4 linked regions of the Homo sapiens genome follow. The protein of the gene in region 3 purifies or fractionates together with the protein of the main gene of each other region. This does not show direct contact. Each region holds a gene or a part of one and is shown on either strand. Other genes may lie near its edges.

The links. The genes of interacting proteins can lie anywhere in the genome.
Region 1: the proteins of CSGALNACT2 (region 3) and TPST2 purify together in Homo sapiens (co-immunoprecipitation; 3 studies listed by BioGRID and IntAct, with this or other methods). This does not show direct contact.
Region 2: the proteins of CSGALNACT2 (region 3) and CHSY1 purify together in Homo sapiens (co-immunoprecipitation; 3 studies listed by BioGRID and IntAct, with this or other methods). This does not show direct contact.
Region 4: the proteins of CSGALNACT2 (region 3) and P2RX4 purify together in Homo sapiens (co-immunoprecipitation; 3 studies listed by BioGRID and IntAct, with this or other methods). This does not show direct contact.

Annotation. Positions count from the first base shown.
Region 1 is NC_000022.11:26,582,754-26,587,705, reverse strand, and holds part of TPST2 (protein-tyrosine sulfotransferase 2), read left to right. Parts: intron 1-4,952. UniProt on the Homo sapiens protein: Catalyzes the O-sulfation of tyrosine residues within acidic motifs of polypeptides, using 3'-phosphoadenylyl sulfate (PAPS) as cosubstrate.
Region 2 is NC_000015.10:101,244,670-101,249,621, reverse strand, and holds part of CHSY1 (chondroitin sulfate synthase 1), read left to right. Parts: intron 1-4,952. UniProt on the Homo sapiens protein: Has both beta-1,3-glucuronic acid and beta-1,4-N-acetylgalactosamine transferase activity. Transfers glucuronic acid (GlcUA) from UDP-GlcUA and N-acetylgalactosamine (GalNAc) from UDP-GalNAc to the non-reducing end of the elongating chondroitin polymer.
Region 3 is NC_000010.11:43,158,206-43,163,157, forward strand, and holds part of CSGALNACT2 (chondroitin sulfate N-acetylgalactosaminyltransferase 2), read left to right. Parts: intron 1-509; coding exon 510-726; intron 727-1,118; coding exon of another isoform or gene 1,119-1,143; exon of another isoform or gene 1,144-1,159; intron 1,160-2,288; coding exon 2,289-2,390; intron 2,391-3,994; exon of another isoform or gene 3,995-4,155; intron 4,156-4,952. UniProt on the Homo sapiens protein: Transfers 1,4-N-acetylgalactosamine (GalNAc) from UDP-GalNAc to the non-reducing end of glucuronic acid (GlcUA). Required for addition of the first GalNAc to the core tetrasaccharide linker and for elongation of chondroitin chains.
Region 4 is NC_000012.12:121,219,556-121,224,507, forward strand, and holds part of P2RX4 (P2X purinoceptor 4), read left to right. Parts: intron 1-2,357; coding exon 2,358-2,429; intron 2,430-2,538; coding exon 2,539-2,611; intron 2,612-3,174; exon of another isoform or gene 3,175-3,212; intron 3,213-3,391; coding exon 3,392-3,488; intron 3,489-4,952. UniProt on the Homo sapiens protein: ATP-gated nonselective transmembrane cation channel permeable to potassium, sodium and calcium. CTP, but not GTP or UTP, functions as a weak affinity agonist for P2RX4.

The sequences.
Region 1 (4,952 bases), on a different chromosome or scaffold from region 3:
GTTCTCTGAAGCAGTCATAACCCTTGAAATCACTGGCTTTGATGTGTTAGTTGTAAACTATTTTCAGGCCGGGCACGGAGGCTCACACCTGTAATCCCAGCACTTTGGGAGCTAAGGTGGGCAGGTCACCTGAGGTCAGGAGTTCGAGACCAGCCTATCCAATATGGTGAAACCCCGTCTCTACTAAAAATACAAAAATTAGCCAGGTGTGGTGGTGCGTGCCTGTAACCCCAGCTACTTGGGAGGCTGAGGCAGGGGAATCGCTTGAACCCAGGAGGCAGAGGTTGCAGTAAGCCAAGATCAATCACACCACTGCACTCCGGTCTAAGTGACAGAGCAAGACTCTGTGAAAATACCGAAGCAAGGAGAGGCAGTGTAGGACCCAGTGGCTTACAGAGCCCACCCCAGGAGCTGGCACACAGTATTAGGAGGGGGTGAAAGGAAGGTGGAAGCTGCTCGGATCTTCCCATCCCGGGCCAGCCTGGAGCCCCCTTGCCAGCTGAGGCTTTGTGGAGGCCAGGGAGACCCTCCATGGCTCTCCTAGACCATAACTGAAGGGGAAGACTTGTCCCTTGACCCCAAAATTAAGTCTGGTCCTGCCCACACCCTATCTGGAACCCCCCACGCTACTCTGAAGGTGACTTCTCTGGGTGGCCACCGGAGTGTCCTATGTGAGTTGCTGCTTATTTCAAGAGGGGCCACCCCCCAGGCCTGAGATGAGCAGTCCTGAGTTACAGACGCTTCATCTGTGAACATTCTGCACACACAGACATCTTCCCCCTCCTCTCAGCACCTTCCCCACCCCTAGGACCCTGTGTTTCTTCCTTCACACTCTTTGCTTCAGCAAGAGGCTGCACCGGAAGAACTCAGGTCAGAACCCAGCGTTTTCACAGAGGAAGAGTTCCTTGAGAAGGTAGGTAGTTCACCCCAGCTTGAACCTGTACTCTGCTGGTTCAGGAACTTAGACCAGCACTTATCTGCGTGTTCCAGTTTCCTGACAACTTGGTTCATCTGGGCAGCTGCTGTTTGGGAATGGTGTTAAGACCACGCCTCCCAGCCGCTGTATCTGGCACCTCGTGACTTTATTCTTTTTTGCATACTTGCCTTTCCTTGTCCTTTTAAAATCCTGAGTTCCTGTGCATTAAGAAAGCAGCCTAGGCCGGGTGCATGGCTCATGCTTGTAATCCCAGCACTTTTGGAGGCTGAGGTGGATGGATTGGTTGAACCTAGGAGTTTGAGACCAGCCTGAATAACATAGTGAAACTCCATCTCTACAAAAAATACAAAAATTAGCCAGGCGTGGTGGTGCGCGCCTGTATTCCCAGATAGCCGGGAGGCTGAGGTGGAAGGATCGCTTGAGTAGAGGTTGCAGAGAGCTGAGATTGCACCACTGCACTCCAGCCTGGGCAACAGGGCGAGATTGTAGGGTATTAGGTCAGTACATAAAAATCAATTAAATATTAAAAAAAGAAAGAAAGAAAGCAGCCTAGGGACATGGAGACGGGGTGGGAAGGCTCCCTAGGCAAGGAACTGCCGCTCTCTGGGTGTCAGTGTACCCTACTGAGGAATGGGCATAGACCATTCAGAACTAAGATGTGGTGGTGCCTTGGGATCGGTTAGGCTGTTGAAATGTATTATTATGATTATTATTATTATTATTTTTGAGACGGAGTTTCGCTGTGTTGTCCAGGCTGGAGTGCAGTGGCGTGATCTCGGCTCACTCCAAGCTCTACCTCCCGGGTTCACGCCATTCTCCTGCCTCAGCCTCCCGAGTAGCTGGAACTACAGGCATATGCCTGACTAATTTTTTTGTATTTTTAGTGGAGACAGGGTTTCCCCGTGTTAGCCAGGATGGTCTCGATCTCCTGACCTTGTGATCCGCCCGCCTCGGCCTCTCAAAGTGCTAGGATTACAGGTGTGAGCCACCACGCCTGGCCTGAAATGTATTATTGATGTGACTTTGTGGGTGTATTTGTAGTAAGAGTGGCAGATCAGATGTAGCTTCACAGCCTGGGGTTGGTGACCAGAATGTACTTTCTTGGAAAAATGCATGTGGCTTGTGTGGCTTTGATGCCCCACGTGGCACCAGGGAAGCTTCTCTGGGTAGCAGCAGCTCCTGCTCCCCGACTTGCTGCCTATTCCGATTGCTTGCAAGTCCCCGTGCCCTCTGAGGACCTGCATGTACCCGGTCTGGGGCCCCTCCAGAGATCTGGGATGACTGTCCCCTCCCGTCACTTCTCAGGTCTCCCCCACCCTTTACTGCAGCCAGAGGAGGATTTGTGGGAATGATTCATTCAGAGCTGCTTGAGATCTTGGCCAGCCCCCAGAAATTGCAGGGAAGGACCTCAGAGGCAGTGCCCACAGGCCCTAGGGAACGTCTGGGGCTGATGGCCCAGGGAGAAACTTCTTATCCTATGTGCTCAGATGGCGGGCAGCCAGCCCGTCTGCCGAGTGACTTTGTATCAGTAAGACTTTTGACTGGGGCTTCTGCAGCCAGAAAGCAGGCAGGCAGCCCAGAAAGCAGGCAGTGTGATAGGGAGCTAGGGGGCACTGGCCTGTATTAGAATCCAGGTGCTCCACATCTTTCTGGGGCTGTTGGCTGTTTCTCTATGCTTTGGTTTTCTCATCTGTTGAATGCAGGTATAAGTAGGACCTATCTTCCAGGGGTGCTGGATGGAAGGGAATGGTGGTAAAGCACTTATCTTGGTACCAGGCAAAAGCTGAGGCCCTGGGGTTAAACAGGCTCTTTGGAATTTTGAACATGTTCGTTTGTGAACCTTAGTTCCTCCGTCTGTCAAAAGGCAACAATTATAAATACAGCCAATATCAACAGGGCTTACTGGGTGCCAGACACTGTTCTAGGCACTGTATGTGGTTTAACTCATTTAATTCCCCCAACAGCCATATGATGTGAACAGGCTGAGGCTCAGAGAGGTGAAGTAATTTGCACAAGGTCACCCAGCTAGGAAGTGGGAGACATAGGATTTGGATCCAGAATCTTTCTTTTTTTTTTGTTTTGGGTTTTTTTGTTTGTTTGTTTTGAGACAGGGTCTTGCTCTGTTGCCTAGGCTGGAGTGCTGTGGCACAATCATAGCTCACTATAACCTTGAACTTCTGGGCTCAAGCGATCATCCCACCTTGGCCTCTCAAGTGCTGGGGTTACAGGCGTGAGCCACCACACCCAGCCCAGACTCTACACTCTGAATTCTCATTCTTACTCCTCCTTGATATCCCATCTTAAGGCCTAGCACATAGAAAACACACAGAAAACATCAGGTGTTGTTATAACTATTCTGAATAAATATTGATCCGCTCTCCATCCCTCTGTCCACACTCCTTCCCTGATGATCAGAACATGCAGGGCTCTTGGCCTGTAAAGTCCAGATTCCCACCCACTCCTCCCTACTCGCTCTGTTCCTCCCACTCCCACACTCTCATGCACAGCAGAGCTTGGAAGCAGCCAAGTCCCAACTCTTCCTCCAAATTGCTGTGTGACATTGGGCAAGGAGCTTCCCCTCTCTGAGCCCCAGTTTCCGTACATGTTAAATGGGTGAGTTCACCCTGCTGCATGTTTTTTGTTGAGCTCCCATGCTACGTGTGTGTTTTTAAAATTGAGTCAACATTCAAACATTTCTAGAGAAAAATTCTGATTTCTCATTTCTCTTGGAAACCCAGGAGCTTAGGCCAAACTGGAGTGGCCTGAAGCTGCCCCTTAGGTGGCCTGGACTCTCCCAGTCACTGTGGTTCCCCCTACTCCCCATTGTCACGTAAGTGCGGCTTTTCAGGGGATCTGAGGATGCCTTAGGCCTGCCTCGTGCCACCTGAATAAGCAGTTCCATTGCTTTAAAAACAATTTTTTTTTTTTGAGACGAAGTCTCGCTCTTGTCGCCCAGGCTGGAGTGCAATGGCATGATCTTGGTTCCTTGCAACCTCCGTCTCCTGGGTTCAAGCTATTCTTCTGCCTCAGCCTCCCAAGTAGCTGGGATTACAGTCGCATGCCACCACGCCCAGCTAATTTTTGTATTTTTAGTAGAGACAGGGTTTCACCATATTGGCCAGGCTGGTCTCGAACTCCGCCTGCCTTGGCCTCCCAAAGTGCTGGGATTACAGGTGTGAGCCATCGCGCATGGCACAATTTTTTTTTTTTTTTGACACGCTCCAAGAGCCCTTCCAGCTCTGTGTTTCTAGGATATTGGAGGTTGTCTGAGGCCTCCTGATACCCTGTCTGCCATTTTAAGCCCTCAAGGCATTTTTTTTTTTTTTTTTTTTGAGATGGAGTTTCCTTCTGTCGCCCAGGCTGGAGTGCAGTGGTATGATCTTGGCTCACTGCAACCCCTGCCTCCTCGGTTCAAGTGATTCTCCTGCCTCAGCCTCCTGAGTAGCTGGGATTACAGGTGCCTACTACCATGCCCAGCTAATTTTTGTATTTTTTTGGTAGAGACGGGGTTTCACCCTGTTGGCCAGGCTGGTCTTGAACTCCTCACCTCAAGTGATCTGCCCGTGTCAGCCTCCCAAAGTACTGGGATTACAGGTGTGAGCCACTGTGCCTGGCCTTTTATTTGTTTTGTTCTTTTTTTTTTTTTTTTTCCTTTTTGAGATGGAGTCTCGCTCTGTTGCCCAAGCTAGAGTGCAGTGGTGTGATCTCGGCTCACTGCAACCTCTGCCTCCCAGGCTCAAGCGATCCTCCCACCTCAGCCTCCCAGAGTGCTGGGACTGGAGGTTGTCCCCATTGCATACTCCCTGTGTGGGGAGTTCCTGTCTCTGGGCGCTAGGGTGCCGTGCCACCTTACCTGGTACAGGCCCCTACCTAACTGTTGTTCCCCACAGTGAGATATTTGTTATTGACCACGCCATTTCCCAGAAGCCAAGGCTTGGAAATAGTCACTTTCCCGAGGTCACACAGGCCTGAGATTCAGCACCAGGACTCAAAGCCCATCTGCCCAACTTCAGAG
Region 2 (4,952 bases), on a different chromosome or scaffold from region 3:
GAATCGCTTGAACCCAGGAGGCGGAGGTTGCAATGAGCCAAGATCATGCCACTGCACTCCAGCCTGGGCTACAGAGTGAGACTCCATCTCAAAAAAAAAAAAAAAAAAAAATTCTATCTATCGATCGATAGATAGAGATACATAGACTAGTGCAGTGATTTGGGAACCAGCCTATCAGGATCTCTCCCAGATCTACCTTGCATTACCTGAGGTTTTATGGGATTTTTTTTTTTTTTTTGACCAGAGAAACAGCCGTATCGGAAATCGAGGATGAGCCATATAGATTATTTACAGCATGGTTTTGAAAGTAAATCCGCATGACTCTAGTGTGGTGATAGACCATGTGAAATCACAGTTTTGGGGACAGTTAACAAACCAGTTAGTACAAACAGTAAATTAGGTAACTCCCTTATCTCCCCCATGCCCCCTGAACCAAATACATTTTCATGGTTACGGTATCAATATATTCAAATCAGTGGGGGGCCTAATGCACCAGCAATACTCAGAAAATGTAATGCAGGCCGGGCGCGGTGGCTCACGCCTGTCATCCCAGCACTTTGGGAGGCCGAGGCGGGCGGATCATGAGGTCAGGAGATCAAGACCATCCTGGCTAACACGGTGAAACCCCATCTCTACTGAAAATGCAAAAAAAAAAAAAAAAAAAAAAATTAGCCAGGCTTGGTGGCAGGTGCCTGTAGTCCCAGCTACTCGGGAGGCTGAGGCAGGAGAATGGCGTAAACCCAGGAGGCAGAGGTTGCTGTGACCCGAGATTGCGTCACTGCGCTCCATCCTGGGGGGCAGAGCAAGACTCCGTCTCAAAAAAAAGAAAATAAGTAAAAGAAAATGTAATGCAAACTAGAACTACTGTTTCACACTTGGAGATGGTTTTCCAAACTCGAGCTTAACGCTCTTACTTTTGGCCTCCTTTCCACATCTCTTCCCTCATCTTTTTCTGGATGTAAGACTTAATCTCATTGTTTATTTATTATTTTTTTTTCAGGTGGTTAGGGGAAAGCAGAAACACAGTTTGCCCCCAGGCGGGGTTCTCCCTTTCTTTTGACACCTCTGCCTTTCTGAGAAAGGAAAACGCCTACCAGGAGATAGTGTCCAGCTAATGTCACTCCAGCTCTCTCACAGAAGTTTCCTTTTATCTCTCAGATCTTAAGAAGTCAGAGTGCATGGAGCCTGGAGGTGGACCTGCCCTGCCAGTTAGGGTCCTTTGCCTCTTGCCTGCCAACCCTGTGTTTAGACTGACTGCAGGAGTTGGCACAAGACGATTTTAGCCTTAAGGCTAAAAGTTAAGGAACTTTTGGGGAGGGCCTCAATTGGGATGGAGGTTATAGGGTATAACATATGATTCCAGTTTTACTGTGCTTTGCAGCCCAGACCAAAAGTCCACACTGAGCTCTTAAATTGGAAATTCCATGCACAGTTCAGTATAAAAGTAAGCTTGACTCTTCTAGCACAAGGTAGAACTCTAGTTTGGAAATCGATGTGCTGAGCTTTACATTTCTCCTGAAAGGTAAATTCATTCTTCATCTTATCGAAAACTGTAGTTTTGTTTTTTAAAAAAAACAAAAAAACAACTGTTGTTTGGCTTATAGATGAAGGAGATGCCAGCACTTTCAGTAAGATGATACTTTGGTGTAGAATACTGAAAATGTCAGAATTTAGGTGAAGGGACTAGTAGCTAGCAACCTCTTCATTCCAACAACTCTGAGATCCAGAAAGGGGCTAAAAAAGCTTTTGAAAATCCAAGGAGATATGCCCGTCCACACTAAAGGCACAGCACTTTGATGATAGAACATCTCCATCATTACACATTTTTACTTTCTAGACCTGCCATCTGCTTGAGGGATGGATGGGGGCCACCAAGATATAGCAGGGCAGTGACAGCTGATAGCAGACAAGAAACAGATTTTTCAAAGCAGGCGAGACAAAACTCAAAATGTAGCAGGTGAGAGACCAGCCAGGGCTGAGCTTTGGAGGCCCTGAGTGACACAGTAGCTGTGGAGTTAATAGGAGTGATCCTGATTCGTTACTTAGGATCCATTTCTTTGTAAAGCACATGCATGCATGGCCCCTCTGGCCCCCGACCCTGAGTCCTGGGGGACACTGCAGTACACGGCTTGCTGTCATGTTCTTTAGTCAGAGGGACGACACTAAAAAGAGGGTTTCTGCTAGTGATGGATGCTGTAGAGAAAATAGAACAGGGTTGGGGCAGGGCAAGTGTGTCCTCTCTGTGTTAGGTGATTAGGGAAGAGTTTGGAGAGAGTGCCATTTGGGCTGAGATTTGATCATGAAGAGCCAGTTGTGTGAATATCATTGATGAGCATGAGGGCCAAGGAAGCACCGGGAAGTCCCAAGGCAGGGACCGGCTTGGAAAGGAACACCAAGAAGGCCAGTAAAAGAAAGAAAGCCAAGAAGGCCAGTAAAAGAAGAGCCCCAAGAAGGGGCTCGCTAGTGTCCAGTCTTGTAAAGTTTCATTCTGAGTGAATTAGAAAGCCACTGGAGGGTTTATGCAGGAAAAGGAGGTGGGTAGCTGGGGTTCTGTAAGTTAACACATAAAATAATTTATTTTGACTCATCTGCAAGTGTGTGTTCTAGGTAATTTCGCTTTAAAATGGTACTGTGATTCCTCTGAAGTCATTTATTATGCAAATTAAGGACAGCTTGTCAGAACCTCTGGGTTTCTTGTGTCTTGCATTACTAGCTGCAATTCGTATTTTTCCCATATTTAAACATTTTCTTTTTAGTTATGTTCTGTGATATATGGAAGGGAAATGTTCATGTAGTTCAGTCTATGTCTTTCCCTTTCTGATTTTAGTTTTCTCTACCCCAGGTTCACAGTTACTGCCCTGGAGAGATTTTTAAAGGTAACGTTTCCTTCCTAATTCTAGAAAGGGTAGAAATCATCTCAACTTTATTTTTTCCCCAAATAGTATGTGGTCGCAGCACCATGTACCGTTGACTAAGTTCTCATTTCCCTACCAGTTTGAAATGCCATCTTCGTCATGCTCAGAATTCTTGGGTATGTTTCTGGACTTCATGTTTTGTTCCGTTGAACTTTCTGTCTGTTCTTGTGCCAGTACCACCCATTGAAATTATTGGAGGTTGAATAATATTTTAATATCCGGTGGACAAGTTCCCCTTTGTTATTCATCTGCTTCAAACATTTCTTGGCTACACTTACCTTTTCTTGCTGAGAGAGTTTCTGTGCTATTTAGATTTTTTTAATCAACGTTTTGATTAAAAAAAAAAAAAAGCCACACGTATTTTGCTTATTCGTCCATTTTTATGCCCAGAACCTTGAGCTAATCCAACACCTTTTGTTTGTTTTGGTTCTTACCCTCTCTGGGCTGAAGATGGGGAATAGTTTTGTTCTTTTTTTATGTTGTCAGAAGAAAGAGGTGGATGGTTTCCCTTCTTTGCGCCAAGATTGAACAAGGGCACCATTACAGATTAGCATCAGTCTGTAGGGGACTGTGGGAAGAAAGTTTGAGAAGCATTACCTAGAGATATAGGAATCTGATTTCAGGATACTATTATCAGTGAATGATCTCTTCCTAATGCCTTAAATGAAGACGGACTGTTCCTCTACCAACCTTAATGAGATCCTCCTATCTTATAAATCTGAATTCATTTCCTTATTTCTTGAGCTAAGTAAACCATGTTTATCTTGAAACAGTTCAGAGCAGTCCTCACTTTCTTAGATAGAATTCAACTTGGCAAACATTTATACAGAAGGCTTTTCCATGTAAAATCCAAATAATCAACCTGTAAGTGAACTTTTGGAGCACCAAGTCATTTCAGATCGTGAATTTCCTGTAGGAGACTAGGGAACCATGTGGCTCTGAAAATGAGTGTAGTTTTTTATGTCAGGTTCAAGATCTTGAAGCGCTCAAACAATATTCCAGGGATTTCCAGGGATGGCTGTGGCTGTCAATAGCGGATTGATTCCAGGGATAGATGTGGCTGTCAATAGCGGATTGTGCGTGACTGTTTCCATTGCACCGGCAGCTTCACGTTCCCCTGTCTGTTAACTAAGCTGCTCTTTATTAACAGTAGATTCCAAATACAGGGCCCTAGTCTCTGCAGAGTTCATTGTCTCAGAAGGAAACGAGCGATGGTATTGGTTGATGAGGGCTGTCAGGGTGCGTGAACTAATCACTGTGGGGGAGCAGAAGAAAGAGGCTTACACCCAGTGGGTGATGGATCAAGAAATGTCTCACCCACACTCCCACCCTTTTTTTACCCACTAGCTGAGTCTTGGAAGATGAAGAGGTGTTTTTGAGGCAGAGACAACTACAGGTTTCCTACAACATGAAATGGCAGGAGTTAGTGAAGGAGCGATGGGAAAGGCCAGCTCTTTGGGGCTAGGTGTAGGCTGTGGGTGGTAGAGTGGTGGGCAGGGACATGGAGGGAAGGTCTGCGTGCCAGGCTTTGTGTGGTTGCTGTCCAGAGCTATTGGTGACATTTCGGCAGGACAGTAGCCTGATGGGATGTGTGTTTTGGAAGATCAGCCCAGCGGTGTTGCTGCTGCAGAGGGTGGCTAGAGTTGGTCAAGTACCGGTACCTAGCTAGAGCTGGACAGGACCGGTACCTGTTGAGGGACGCTTGGGTAGCATTTATCAAGAAGTCTAAAATGCAGCTCTCTTGAGGTCTGGCAATTGCTCTAGAATTTTTTCCAAAGGAATTTTAAAGGTGTGCTTAAATGTGTACATATGAAGTGGAAATTTCAGGTATTTTAGGTGTCCTGCTTTAGGAGATAAGGACCAAAATTGACTTAACTGATTCATCCATACTGTGGTCTGCATCTCTAACAAGTAAAAATGGTGTGGCTGAAATACTTTTATTGACATGAGGAGAGGTTCAGAATATACTTAAGTGAAAGTAAACTGTAAAACAGTATGGCCAGTACAAAGCCCTTCTGTGTTTAAAGTAAAACAAAA
Region 3 (4,952 bases):
CACATAGCACTATATTGTTATTATTTGTCTATTTTTCTGTCTCCTTCACTAGACTGGCCCTGTCCTCAAAATTGAGACCATGTGGCACTCTTTGTATCACATAACTGACACGAAGGCACTCGATTTCTTTTAGTTGACCTAAACCAATAGAAATTTTGGCTCTTGGGTCTAGATTTTAATATTGCTAGAAGTAATTTCTTTATTTATCATGATTACCATATTGATAGGCTCTAGTATTTTTAAAAAGTCGTATGTAAAAAGGAACAATTGTCATTTGTAGTATATTTTATAGATTGAATAAAATAACAGAACAGTGAACTTTTTTTTTAACCTTTTCTTTTAAGCGAGTAATTGTTACTGTGCAGTGGGGATAAGTATTTTCACAAATAGGTAAAAATCCTGCAGGTCTAGTTTAATACCCTTTATGTTTAAGTGAGTAAAATCTGTCTTCCCATTGAATTTGTAAACTTTGACATGGAGACGTCTTTGTTCCTAACTCTTTCCTTTAGGTTATTATCGCACTGAGAGAGATAAGGGCACACAGTATGAACTCTTTTTTAAGAAAGCAGACCTTACGGAATATAGACATGTGACCCTCTTCCGCCCTTTTGGACCTCTCATGAAAGTGAAGAGTGAGATGATTGACATCACTAGATCAATTATTAATATCATTGTGCCACTTGCTGAAAGAACTGAAGCATTTGTACAATTTATGCAGAACTTCAGGTAACTGTCAGGGCTTAATGATTAAGCTACATTCTCCTAAAAAAAATCACGTTTTACTCAGATTTCCTTAATTTATCTTCACCGATTATAATTACTTAGAATAATTTTACAGGCTTTAGGGGAACTTTATTTTTTTATATTCTCTCTTTTTTTAAAGCATGTGTAGTATATTGTGTTATAGACAATTTGAACTATGAAATAAATTAAGAGTGACACCTATTAGAAACTAAATTTGATGGCCTTGATAATTGTTTTGAATTCATTTTAAGACAAGTTGAATTTTTAAAAAATCAACTTTACTAAGGAATAATTTACATGCAGTAAAATCCACATATTTTAAGGATATAGGTATCATGACTCTTTTTTTATTTTTATTTTTTTTTTTGAGACAGGGTCTCACTCTATCACCCAGGCTAGAATGCAGTGGAGTGAGCACAGTTCACTGCAGCCTCAACCTCCTGGGCTCAAGTGATCCTCCTGCCTCAACCTCCCAAGTAGCTGGGACCACAGGTGCATGCCATCTTTTTTATTCTTTGTAGAGAGAAGGTCTTGCCATGTTGTCCAGGCTGGAATTTAATGTCTTTTGACAAACGTATACACTCACGAACCACCACCCCAATTAAGATACAGAATACTTGTGTCTCACAAGAAAATCCCCTTGAGAATGATTTGAGTTTTTTAATTGAAATACATTTAGACATACAAACATTAAACTAAAAATTGGAGAAAGTTATTTCAGCTTGCAAAGCAGAGAATTTGTAAAGTTTTTTTATGTTATCAAATTTGTATATTTTAAAATGCTGAAGTGTTAAATAATTATCTACACATTATGAAAACTATTTGTGGAAAATGCTTTTTGATTTAACAGTTTCCATGTTTCTAATACTTTAATATTTTTAATGTTTTAGATACTTTGATATACTGGTTTAATGCTTTGTGATCCTAGTCTTTATTCTCATATTGAAATTGTTGGATTTAAAAGGTTAATTAAAACTGGTCTGCAGCTGAATGTCTGGCAGTCATACTTCCAAGTGAGATTTACTGTTCCAAATAGCTCACTTGAGATCCGATTTCCTAAAGCATTTTTTTATTGCCTTTCTTGGAATTACTTTCAAAGGCCACATTATTATTTACAGTAAGTAATCTCAGTCATGGCAAATATTTATTCCTTAATGATAGTTACAATTTTTGGAATTAGCCAGTCTGAAGACAAAATAACTCTTAATCCAAAAGGTCAGTATTTATTTATGTGGTTCTGAACCAGTTGAGTTTATTTCCTTGAATAGCTTGTGATTTGCTTCTGAAAGCAATCCAAAAGCAAAAGTTCAAAAAATGTTTTGAAATAATGGCAGCAATGTCAGACTGCTTCCATGGCCCTCCAAGGGGTGCACTCATTCAGGCATAGACCTTGTGCCTTCCATAATTCATCAGTATTGCCACATTTATGTTTACTACTGTGTCAGTAATGCCTCATTTTCTTGTTAAAGCTTCATGTGGTTGCTTTCTTAATGAATAGTGCCTCATGTTTTCTTGAATAAACTTTTATTTTTCACTTCTGTTAGGGATGTTTGTATTCATCAAGACAAGAAGATTCATCTCACAGTGGTGTATTTTGGTAAAGAAGGACTGTCTAAAGTCAAGTCTATCCTAGAATCTGTCACCAGGTTGGTGAACCACATCTGCAGTGAAGGCCTTGATATATAACATTGCTAAAAGAGAATTTCAGATATGTAATGAGTTAATAATTTTTAGTAACTATTATTTAAAAATTGGCTGAGCATGTGGGCGGTGGTGGTGATGATAAGTTCCTCATTTCACATGCAACCCTACATGACTCAACTTCCCTTCACTGCTTAGCAAGCAGCCTGGCATGATGCTTTCTCTGTGGCCCACTCACCTTCTGTGTATTTGCTGCTGCTTTCCTTTTTTTAAAATCTAATTCCTTCACTTTGACATAATCATCTTCTGAATTTGTCTCTTTTTTGTCACCTTTCTTTCCTTCCATTTCCTCAGGCTCCTTCTTCTCCCCCTGCTAACAATGTTGAGGTCTCCCATATCCTTAAGAAACTCCCACTCAACTCTGAAGTGCCCAGCCACTACTGTTATGTTTCTGTCCTTTCACAGCTCAACATCACGAGACAGTAGTTCATAGCTAAGCAAGTCATATAGTACCTGGCACATAGTAGATGCTCAGAGGTTTGAATGGATGAATTAGTAATCCCTTAGTACTTAATTATTAATTCTTTAGCCTCTCAGCCTTTTTCTTTCTAAATCATGGGCCCAAAGATAACGACTTAACTGCCAAATTCTTTTCTGTTATTCTTTTTCATTGCTTTTTTACCTTTGACAACCTAACCAGTATTTCTGTCTTAAAATGTTCTTCTTGTGTTTGTAAAATGTAACTATTTTGTAAATGTAAGTATGATGTAATGTAAACTATTAGGTTGATTATCATCTCTAACCACACCAGCTCTATATCCTTTACTTGCTTCTTTACCTTTCTGCCAGTTGTGGCCATTTGCCAAGAGCCCAGATTTGATCAGCCATTCTTCTCAAATCATTCAACTCACATTCATTGAGTCCTGCCTACTGTGTTCCAGGTACACTGCTTGGGAGTTTGACTGGGGTAGTTGGAAGAAGAGTGGGCGTAGATGAGTGAATCTGAGTCCCTGACCTGCAGGGATTCTCAGAGCCTTGATGTATATAGACACAATTCACTGTCTTCCCCTTCCCTACACCAGCTCCTCCTCCTGATGGCCCTCTTTCAGTTCAGAGTAAAACCATTTTCACCATCTGGGCATGACTTCTGAGAGCCACAGTCTTTTACTTATTCTTTGCCTCCAGTTACCTCTAATTAGTTAGTTCCTACTTAATTCACAGGACCTCTTCTCTATCTCTTCCTTGCTACTGCCACCACCCTAACCCTGGTTCCCCCTCCCTCCATTTCTTCCCTTCCTGTCCCTCCTTAGTGTTTTTAGATCACCTACTAAGTGCCACAAGCTCACACTGGTAATACTGAAGTATTGTCAAGACACTTCTGTGGCAAATGGTGTAAACCTACCTTGAGCTTGCTTGAGGAAAATAGGAGCAGTATTGAAGAATCTCGGATACCTCCCAGAAATAAAGGGATTGTTACAACCAAATTTGGGGAAGAAAATCAAAACAACTCTTGTTTCTCAGGGATTGGAACCAGAGACTTGAATACCATCAAAATTCTCGTCTCCTTGTCTGTTTTTCTCTGCATGTTGACTTCATTCTCCTGTTGCAGATTGGCTTCTTCCACATGGTGAGGGATATGACTGTTGGCGGCTCTGGGCTCACATCTTCTCAGCTTTGCCATCAGAGAGGAAAGAGCTTTCTCCCAGCTCCAGTTGAGAAAATCCCAGGGAAGGACATTTTGCCCACTCTTGAGCCAATCACTATGGCCAGGTTGGGTGGGGGTATTGGGACTGGCCCAGCTTAAGCCTGGTCTCCACCCCTAGGAAATTACTGTGGTTGGGGTGGGCAGAGAGTGAGGGGTATTCTGTGATCAGTGCCTCCACTTGATGCTGAGTATGTGGGGTGGCAATGGGCAGTTTTCCCCCAACAGAGGAGAGATTTATATTCCTTAAGACGGGGAGAAGAGTCCTAGGCATTCAGAGCACTTGGAGTCCACTCCATGCACTATTTGAGCCTTTGTTCCATCTCTCCATTACCCATTCTGTACTGTTGTAAGTGTAATCCTCCTAAAATGTTACTTTTTTGATTAGGCTGCACCCTAGTGCAGTGAGTGATTCTCCAGCTTCAGTGCCAGAGTCACCAGGAGGACTTGTGAAAATGTAGAGGCTTCTCTCCAGCCCTAGCATCTGATTCAGTGGGTCTGGCTGTAGTCTGAGAGTTTGCTTCTCTAACATGTTAACACAGGAAGCTGATGCTGTGGGTTTGGGGGCCTCACTGTGAGAACCACTGCCCTAGCAGAAAAGTCCTGCTGATTCTCTTTGCCTTTAGGATACTGACCAATTTCTTTAACCTTGCATGGGAGGTACTCTTCACTCTGACCCTTCTCTCATTGTTCCCATTTTAAGATTCCGTTGACCCTTATCTCACTGTTCCCATTTTAGGGTCCTTTTCTACCAATCTGATTTGTCTGATCCCTTTTCTCTAAAATGCTTTCTACATTCTTACCTCTTTGCCTTTGAGAATAATTATTTTGAATGACCTTTACACTCACCACTGAATTCAACATT
Region 4 (4,952 bases), on a different chromosome or scaffold from region 3:
CCCATCTTGATTGGATGGGTGGTGGATGGATGGATGGATGGATGGATGGATGGATGGATGGATAGATAGATAGATAGATAGATAGATAGATAGATAGATAGATGGAAAGAAAGAAAGAATAGATAAATGATAGGATAGGAGAAAGAAAGGGAAAGAAAGAAAAGAGAAGAGAAAAGAAAGAAAAGGGATAGGATAGATGACAGATGATAGGATAGATTAGATAGGTGATAGATAATCGATAAATAGAAAACAGATGATAGATATAGGATAGATTAGATAGATAGATAGATAGATAGATAGATAGATAGACAGATAATAGATAGATTAGATTAGATGGATGGACACCAGCCCCCAATGAGAGGAGGATCCAACTAGAATCTTTTGGGGTCTTTGCCTTTTATTCCTTATATGAGGAGGTCATTATCAGCAATTCTTCAGTCTCATCCCTAGCAAATTGCTTTCCAGAAACTCTAAATCAATTATTTGGCACCTTTATACATATAAGGAGGAAACAGAACCTTTTCAAAGAGAAATGTCACTTGCTGACCCTGACCGAGTCTTCTCTAGAATGTTTGATTTATAATTTCAGTTAGGAAAGAAAACCAGCCAGATTTGAGCCCCATGAGGCCTCATGTTTTTATTCCTCTGAGATAATCTGGTTGGCAGGGAATGTTTTTAGCACTTGTTGGCTCTTTCCCTCAGTAAGTCAAGTTTGATTGAGAAACCATTGTTTCAGTTTGCAGACCCCCCCCTTTTTTTAACTGCAGTCAAATTCACTTATAGAAACTAACCATTTTAAGTCGGGCACAGTGGCTCATGCTTGTAATCCCAGCACTTTGGGAGGCTGAGGCAGGTAGATCACTTGAGGCCAGGAGTTGGAGACCAGCCTAGCCAACATGGTGAAATCCTATCTCTACTAAAGATACAAAAATTAGCCAGGTGTGGTGATGTACACCTGTAGTCCCAGCTACTCAGGAGGGTGAGGCTGGAGAATCGCTTGAACCCAGGAGGCGGAGATTGCAGTAAGCCAAGATCGTGCCACTGCCCTGCAGCCTGGGCGACAGAGCAAGGCTCTGTCTCAAATAAATAAATAAATAAGAAAGAAATTAACCATTTTAAAATGAAAAATTCAGCACATTTAGTGCATTCACAGTGTTATGCAAGCATCACCTCTATCTAGTTCAAAACATTTCCATCACCCCAAAGGGAAGCCTCGTATGTTACACAACCACTCCCCATTCCCCACTTCTCTCACTCCCTGGCAACCCGTAAGTGCTTTGTCTCTATGGACTTGACTGTTCTGGAAATTTCACATCAATGTAATGGTATCCTGTGTGGCCTTTGTGTCTGGCTTCTTTCACTCAGCATCATGTTTTTGGGGTTCATCCATGTTGTAGCCTGTATCAGTGCTTTATTCCTTTATTTTATTTTTTGAGATGAAATCTCACTCTGTCACCCAGGCTGGAGTGCACTGGCGTGATCTCGGCTCACTGCAACCTCCACCTCCCAGGTTCCAGTGATTCTCCTGGCTCAGCCCCCTGAGTAGCTGGGATTACAGGTGCCCGCCACCACACCCGGCTCCTTTTGTGTGTGCGTGTGTCTGTGTGTGTTTGTGTGTGTGTGTGTGTGTGTGTGTGTGTGTTTTTAGTACAAAGTTTCACCATGTTGGCCAGGCTAATCTGGAATTCTTGACCTCAGGTGATCCTCCTGCCTCAGCCTCCCAAAGTGCTGGAATTACAGGTGTGAGCCACCATGCCTGGACCCTTCATTCCTTTTTATTCATGGCTGAATCACATTCCATCATGTGACTAGACTAGGACAGACATTTGGGCTGTTTCCACCATTTTTTTTTTTTTTTTGAGACAGAGTCTCGTGTCATCCAGGCTGGAGTGCAGTGGCGCGATGTCGGCTCGCTGCAACCTCCGACTCCCGGGTTCAAGCAATTCTCCTGCCTCAGCCTCCCAAGTAGCTGGGACTACAGGTGCCCGCCATCACACCCGGCTAATTTTTGTATTTTTAGTAGAGACGGGGGTTTCACTGTGTTGACCAGGCTGGTCTTGAACTCCTGACCTCGTGATCCGCCCGCCTCAGCCTCCCAAAGTGCTGGGATTACAGGCTTGAGCCACCGCGCCCGACCTGTTTCCACCTTTTGGCTCTTGTGAAAAGTGTTGCTCTGAATATTTATGTACAAGGACTTGTTTGAGTCACTGTTTTCCATTGGGTTATAAACTTTGATGGGAGAGAGCGGGAGAGCACGCGGTCAGTGTTTGAGTTGTCCTCTTCAGTCAGCGTCTGCCTTTCTTGGCTCTCCGTGAGTCCTCTGAGCGTGGCTTGCCCGTGCTGTCTCCCCTCTGCAGGAGGAAAACTCCCTCTTCGTCATGACCAACGTGATCCTCACCATGAACCAGACACAGGGCCTGTGCCCCGAGGTAGGAGGCCCCCGGGAAGAGCCCCAGGCCCCACACCCCTCTCCACGCCTGTCCACCTGTGTGTGGGGCCGGGCCACGTGGACTTTCTTTTCGCTCCTTCTTTTTCCAGATTCCAGATGCGACCACTGTGTGTAAATCAGATGCCAGCTGTACTGCCGGCTCTGCCGGCACCCACAGCAACGGTACGAGCTTGTGGCCTCCTGGGGAGGGCGGCCCCTGAGCAGATCGCCCCCACTGTGGAGCGTCTCTGATAGAGAAATCTTCCCAATTCCTTCACATGACCCTGGGTGAGCCAGGTGCCGAGGCTGGGGTCCTGGAGCCCCTCTACATTCACTGCTGTCATTGGAGCCCCACAAGCCATCCCAGCTCTTGCCCTACTGTTTTTTTTTTTGTTGTTGTTGTTGTTTTTTCTTGTTTTTTTTTTTGTTTTGTTTTTTTGTTTTTTTGAGCCAGAGTCTCGCTCTGTCACCCAAACTGGAGTGCAATGGCATGATCTCGGCTCACTGCAACCTCCACCTCCCAGTTTCAAACAATTCTCCTGCCTCAGCCTCCCGAGTAGCTGGGATTACAGGCATGCACCACCACGCCCAGCTAATTTTTGTACTTTTGGTAGAGATGGGTTTTACCATGTTGGCCAGGCTGGTCTCGAACTCCTGACCTCAGGTGATCCACCCGCCTCAGCCTCCCAAAGTGCTAGGATTACAGGCATGACCCACTGTGCCTGGCCTCTTGTCCCATTCTTTAGCTTGGCATCACCCTGGCTGAGATGTGGCTGGCACACAGGTAACTGTCTTCCTCCGATTCTAACTCCTGGACAGTGACACTGTCTAAATCCCAGATTTGCACAGCTCAAGACTGGCTGCATGGGAGGCTGGATGGGGCTCTCACTCCCTACTCCAAAAAGGTAGAAAATAGGAGACCCCTGTGGACATGGGACCCCCCTGCCACCCTTGTGCTTGTAGGAGTCTCAACAGGCAGGTGCGTAGCTTTCAACGGGTCTGTCAAGACGTGTGAGGTGGCGGCCTGGTGCCCGGTGGAGGATGACACACACGTGCCACAGTGAGTCCAGCCCTAGGGAAGGAAGTGCCTTTTTGTTTTGTTTTGTTTTAGACACAGTTTCACTCTGTATCCCAGGTTGGAGTGCAGTGGTGCGATCTTGGCTCACCACAACCTCCACCTCCCGTGTTCAAGTGATTTTCTGTGCCTCAGCCTCCCGAGTAGCTGAGATTATAGGCACCCACCACCACGCCCAACTAATTTTTTGTATTTTTAGTAGAGACGGGGTTTTGCCATGTTGGCCACGCTGGTCTCCAACTCCTGACCTCAAGTGATCCACCTGCCTTGGCCTCCCAAAGTGCTAGGATTACAGGCGGGAGCCACCACACCCAGCCAGAAGCCACCACACCCAGCCGGAAGCACCTTCAACTCTGCGTGTCAGCCTTGAACAGAGGTGGTCAAGGAGTTACACCTGTGTGTTGTGGCTTTTTGTGTGTTTCTGGTGTCTGTATGAAGTCAGGCTGCCCTAGGATGGCTGCTCTCAACCACAAGGCAGCGACCATCAGTGGCAAGATGGGCCACAAGTAGTCTGTCACTCACGAGAAGGGTGCAGGTGACTGACTTCCTTGTATGTTAGGACTCTGTCAGTTGCAAATAACTGACAGGAAACAGTTCTCAGTGCCTTAAGCACATGTGCACAAACACATACACACATACACATGCGTGCACAGCGGGGGGGCAGTGTATTGTCCGGCTGACCAAAAAGATCCAGCGTGGCCAGGAGAATCTCGTGCCAGGCTGAGGCAGAAGAATCTCTTGAACCTGGGAGGAGGAGGTTGCTGAGCTGAGATGGTGCCACTGCACTCCCTCCTGGGCGACAGAGGCCACTGCACTCCTGCCTGGGCGACAGAGTGAGAGACAAAGGACAACACCCTAGTCTCCCTTCCTGGCTCTGCATCCCGCCGTGCCAGCTTCACTCGCAGGACCCACAGCATAGCCCGGGAGGCAGCGCTGCACTTACAGCCCCCCAAGTCTGAGTCTCCCTTTCCAGCTGTCCCTGGAGATTCTAGACCTGTCCATCATCGTATCAATGGCCATATCTCTCAACCCATCTCTGTGGCTGGGGAATGGGTTTTGCTTATCAGCTTGGGCCTGGGTCACATGCCCACCTCTGCAGCTGGGGCTAGAGTCAGACCCACCCAAGTGACATAGGCAAGCATTGGGGAGATATGGCTTCCAAAGGACATTTGGGGTTCTGTTACCAGAAAAGCTGGGAGCAGATGCTGGGAAGAAAACAACGGATGTTTGCTACAGTGTATTTTAAACTAAACTAGACAGGTTCATCCTGGCGCGGTGGCTCATGCTGTAATCCTAACACTTTGGGAGGCTGAGGCAGTCGGATCATCTGAGGCCAGGAGTTCAAGACCAGCCTGGCCAACATGGAGAAACCCCGTCTCCACTAAAAATACAAAAATTAGGGTTAGGGTGGCGCTTGTCTGTAATCCCAGCTACTTGGGAGGCTGAGGT